Regions from separate parts of the Homo sapiens genome. Here region 2 is linked to region 1. The links come from fine-mapping of genetic effects on gene expression. A gene starts in region 1. The other region holds a variant in brackets. All regions are shown on one strand. Distances are between the middles of the regions.

What was found. PIP is the estimated chance that this variant, and not a neighbour inherited with it, causes the effect.
Region 2: its variant is the best candidate, but not a certain one, in a credible set for the expression of ARHGAP42 in iPS cells (HipSci, PIP 0.87).

The regions. Positions count from the first base shown.
Region 1 is chr11:100,685,914-100,688,729 of GRCh38, reverse strand. It overlaps ARHGAP42 (Rho GTPase activating protein 42), which reads right to left and starts at 1,442. Exons shown (of 24, transcript NM_152432.4): 1 at 898-1,442. The coding sequence starts at 1,051. ARHGAP42-AS1 (ARHGAP42 antisense RNA 1) reads left to right here and starts at 775. Exons shown (of 2, transcript NR_133571.1): 1 at 775-1,097. RefSeq lists enhancers at 678-1,047, 1,368-1,417, 1,131-1,841 and silencers at 1,068-1,237, 1,538-1,727, 1,778-2,072.
Region 2 is chr11:100,823,855-100,826,670 of GRCh38, reverse strand. All of the region lies in intron 3 of ARHGAP42 (Rho GTPase activating protein 42), which reads right to left. Among named protein-coding and RNA genes, the nearest start is that of SNORD13I, 110 kb to the left of the region's middle. The variant C/A (reference allele first, on the strand shown) is at 1,484.

The DNA.
Region 1 (2,816 bases):
AAAATAAATTTTTTAAAAGATGCAAATACCTCCTGGGAAAGGTAACAAGCCATATCATGTAATTGTGCTCAATTCTCTGTAAGAGAAACTCTTCAGTTTCAGATACTCTTAGGTCTTAGGAATTGAAAGCTAAGATCCAGAGGATAAAAGGAGGAAGGAAAATTTGATCAAGAGGTGTATGGGAAAGGAGGTGGAAGAAGCCCTATATTATAGACTATAACAGTCTTTATATTCTACAGATCATCAAAAGTTCTGATTGGCCTTTAACCCCTTAACTTTCATCCCAATGACACACCCAACACCCACACAATGCAAACCAAAACTAAGACGCACAGAAAACTTGCAGAGTTAAAATGCACTGGTGCCTTGCTGTCTTCCATTATCTTACAAAATGGCAAAACTGCAAATGTATGCTTTTTAAAAAGCCAACTCAATGACTGTGTCCAATGAAGAGCCACTGACGTATGAGAGACATTAATAATTTTCTTTCAATATCACTAAACTAGCCTAATTTTATCTTTAAGACAAACTCTTGATTCCCCCCTTAAGGGCTTTTTTAGTTCAAACTATTAATAGACACAATAAATTAAAAAAAAAAAATTAAAGTCCCCAACATCTTCCTAGGAGCATTACACAACGAGATGACTTTGAACGACTTTCCTCAGGATATATTCCAGTGCCCTGTAGAGAACTTTCCCCATCCCTGTAGACATGTGAGTAAGTAAAGAACACCTCAAGAACAAACTTTGTTGGCCACCAGCAGGGGAGCTCTTCAGCTTTTGTCCCCAAATCCATTCAAACAAAAGAAGCTCCGACTCCTCCAACCCACCCTTCGGACCCGCACCCCGCGGGGACTCTCCAGATGCGGGTGTCCACTCCCCCGCCAGCCCTACTTACTCCTCAACGCCCCAATGAGCAGAGAGCCGTCCTTAATGAGCTCCTTGATGAACTTGTTGGTTCGCTCCAGCTCAATCTCGTGACACTGCAAGCGCTCCCTGAAATCTGGGCTGTCCAAGTAGGAATCGCTGAACTCCAGAGTGGGCAGCCCCATGGCACAGGCGCTGCCAGCGGCGGCCGCGGACACGTCCGGGCCGGAGGTCAGGGCGGGGGCAGCCGGCGGCCGCGGCGGGCGCTGGGGTCGCGCGATCGCGGGGAAGGCGCCGGGACGCGAGGGGACTGATTGCGCGGAGGAAACGGGCCCCGAGCGCCGCGCCGCCTGCGCCGGGCTCAGTCTTCCTCCCCCGAGGCTAGGCGAGCGCAGGCGCGGGCGGCGGGCCGAGGCGCGAGTCCCCTCAGGTTGTTGTCATCTGGACGCATCGTCGTTCGGAACGCGGGGGCGGCGAGGCTCCGGGCCGCGGCCGGAGCAGGAAAGTTTCTCTCACGGCGCGCAGACACTTCCGGCAGTTCCACTCCCCAACTCTCTTGACAGTCGTCGGCGTTGTGAGCCAGAAGCAGCGCACAGCCGCAACTCCGGCCGGGCTGGGGAAACCCTCCCCCTCGGCGGACGCAGGCTCAGAGCGCTTGCAAATCGCACCCGGGCTCCCAGACCCTCCTCCCCGCCGCCGCGCTCCCACCCAGCGCCACCCCGCCCCTTCGCCCCTTTGCCCTCCTGCCCCACCCGTCCGCCCGCACTGGGCTCCAGGGCTCCCCGCGCTGCAGCCCCGCGCTTGCGCTCCGGCCTTGGCTGGGGTGTTAGCCCTGTCCCCTCTTGGGCCCCTGGTTTCGGCTAGCCCTTGGTGACACTTCGGGGTCCCTCGCTCCACAAAAGGATCTGACTCCCAATATACCTCCCCTAACAGTGTCCCCTCCACCCACTCCCTACAATTCTCTGGGAGAAAAACCAACGTTAAGTTTCCCTAAAGTCTGAGTATTTTGAAGCGTAGATGGAAGATACTACTGTCTAGCGTTCGTTTAGATTTTACTTCACACTTCCCCACCGAATGCATTTGAATTCCACGTTGAAAAATTGTCCCGTCGCTCTCCCACCCCTCAGCTTCAATGATCCAGCCTGGAGGTGTTTCTTCCCCCTGCCCCCACTCCATAGCTGGGAAGGTGGGACGATTTTTCAAGTCATCCTCACTCTGCTTACGTGCTCCTACTTCTAGTAGAATACCTATTTGCATCACAATAGTAGTATCTCCTATTGGCACCTGGATGGAATTGTCCTAGGAGCGGGAAAATTTTCAAATTGTTGAAGTGGACTGGAGTTTGAAATAAATAGTTAACTCCTACCCACAGGCTTTATCCTTCCTCCGGTGGAGGTTCACCTAATAAATTTCTGTTCTCTTAAAACCTTGACAGCAAAAGAAACGACTGCTTTACATCTCGTCCTGACATCATCTATAGGATTTCTGAGAACTCGGATATTGTTCTTAAGGATCTGCTTTTAATTTCTGCATTTTCATTGCTTTGTCCATATGAACCATCTGTTTAAAAACTATTCTACAGATCATGGGAAAAATTCCACTAAAGTGCTTTACATTTTTCCCAATTAAGTTTCAGAGCCAGTCAAGATTCTTGGTTTCAATTTTTTAAATGTACAGGAACATTAAAAATAACATGTAAACCTAAAACAGATAAGATAATGTAAACAGTATGGGCCAGGCGCAGTGACTTAACGCCTGTAATACCAGCATTCTGGGAGGCTGATGCAGGAGAATCACTTGAGGTCAGGAGTTGGAGACCATACTGGCCAACACGGTGAAACCCAGTTTCTACTAAAAAATACAAAAATTAGCTGGGCCTGGTGGCGCACGCCTGTAGTCCCAGCTACTTGGGAGGCTGAGGCAGGAGAGTCACTGGAATCCGGGAGGCGG
Region 2 (2,816 bases), 140 kb before region 1:
AGATCTTGTAATCTTAAAATTGGTGAAGTAAGCAAGTAAAACTTCAACTATTACTGTTAATATAACTACATTGATACTCAGGAGCTGGTAAGGTCTAGATAAATTCACTTTACCTAAATGTAATGATAATAAATTCTAAATTATGGTACATGAGAGAAGAACACAAATTACCCAAAGTTACATCTGTATAGTCTTGAAATGTATTAAATGATTCAGTGTAATTATCAAGTAACTTTATAATGATATTGTCCCTAAGATAATATTAAGGCTACTTTGGATATCCATAGTATAAACCTCTGAAAACATGTAGAAGCATCCTGAGTTGCAGGGATAGTCAGTCTAGGATTTAAAAATCAAACTACAGAAAGTCCACAAAATGGATAACATATACGTTCAATAGCCATCTCATTCATGTGTTTCCCCAAAAGGAAATTATAGGACGTATTCCACACCAAGCCACAGAAATATTTTCTTAAAATTCTTTGTCCAGAAATTATTAAAACCCTGGAATAAGGGTTAGGTGGAATCCTTCAATATAACACTTTCAAGGAGAAGTGAGGGGAGGTGTGGGGAAAGGAAGGAAAGAGAGAGAGAGAGAAAAAAAACAGCATTTTACCAGCTAGAATAAATAATAACTCGTCTACCCACTTGGACTCAGGAACCCTGGACATAAGCTTCTGAGGAACCGATCAAAAACTCTACTGAAGTACAACATCTGACAGCCACGGGAACTCAGCCACTGCATGGTTTTCCTCATCCCATTATGTACAGAGCTTTCTAGCAATGCTGAGCATTTCCAAGCAAATAAATAAACACAAAAGACTACATTTCAAAAACAGCTGCCTAAATTGGAGTCATAAAACACATGCACACTGAATGTGGGTACATGCCCACACAAGCTGGACTTGTAAAGACTGCAGCAAAAGAATGAAAAACAGAAGAAGAAACCTGGGAGTGACACTTTGAAGCAGATTTAAGGAGCATGCTGCGTAAAATATACACTACAGAGTCATCTCATCCATGCAGAAAACTGCACATACAGCCAACACGGTACTGGAGGAAGCTCCCATTCATGTTTTCTTTACTCCAAGACAACACAAGCCAGATGCCAATATCCAAATATTCTTCACGTACAAATTAAGCATTAAATGAATGGTAAAAGTGCTTATTCTGGTATAATAAAAATCGTGTTGTTTTTATTTGAATGGCTGATATAAACAAAACACTTTATTTAATGCCATTAAAGGTTTCAGAGCTAACATTTTCCTAAAACTAAATGCAGCATTTTCAATTGTCCTATGAAGTTATGTTGAACTGTTTATATTATTAAATCGGTATGCCCTCTTCTCATAAAAAATGTTACAGAAGTAACACCCAACTGAATCAGGAACAAGGCATAGTATGAGAAATAAACATAGAACATAATATAAGGACAATATAATAATTTGAAGCCTGAAAGCATCTACATTACTTAATTATTAAA[C/A]AAGAATGGGTAGTCTATGCCAGTTGATTAAGTAAAGGTATTTCTAATTTCTAGGAGCTACTCATTGTTAATTTTATCAATGAAAATGATGCTGTAAAATTTTTCTAACAAGCACTTCCATTGCCATTACTATTTCAGAGTTACAATGTTATTCCTTGTGATGAATGCACCATACTCCCAATGTTGTTAACCATCCTCCTTTGTCTATTAATTTGTTTATAAAAACATTCACTCATAACAATTATTCAGCCCAGCTGTGCTATGTGCTAAGGCTTCTGAGACAAGTAACACAGCTTCAAGGAGCCTACAGCTTAGAATGGGAAAGAAACCAGTAAGGAATGATTATAAAATCAGGCAAAATGTGTGGTAATAGAGGTAAGGTTATTCAAAACTTGGATGTCAAACTGCTTTCACAGACATAAGTTTATACACAAATCATGGAGTAGGGAGGGAAATGATTATAACCCCAAAATTCAGAGCATGGACTCCAAGATTAAATCTGTCATCTATGATGATATATAGTTGATTAGGAGAAGAGTCTCCGCTAGAGCCCTACATTTTTCACTACACTATGCTGAATTTCCCAGCTCATGAAGATTTTGACAAAAAGTCATCATCATATATCATATATACAACTAGTTATTGAATTCATGTGCTTCCTAGATCCGTATTCGGGACTCCAGTGTAGAAGCTAGTGCAATAACCTGTATGTACTGATCCTGTGAAATTTTAATGACTTTCTGTTCTTTCTTTCTCATTTCTCAACTCTCTCTCTTAACCTTTCCTGTCATCCCTTTCTAGTTGAAAGGACTTCAGTCATTAGTAGTCTATGACTGAAAAACAGTGAGGGCAGCCTTAAAGCAAGCATCATTAAACTTTAACTTAAAAACAAGGCCAAGAGCAGACCACACAATCTATGTAAGCATGTGCAGAAAAGATGTGGCCACCAAGCTATTGAATACTAACTCTATGCTACCCTGGGAACCTTCTCACAAACATTCCTACAGTTTCACTTCCAGAGGCTACTACCCACATGCTGCCGGTGGGTGGGGGATATGCAAGTGCATTCAGATATACTTAATCTGCAAAAGCACAAACACTGTCTTAATTATAATCTAATAATTCTAATAAACTCATGGTTAAATTCATGGCCAAATAATGCCCTTACTTTTTTCAGCAATGCTCTACTTGATTGAAAATCTTTGTTTTAGAATTTTACTTTTGAAATCTGTCAGAATAGCACATTCTTTTCAAATATCCTCAATAATGACATAACCTTTAAATATAGGTGTGGTTTTGGGGGTAAAAATGATTTTTATTAGAGGCAATGCCT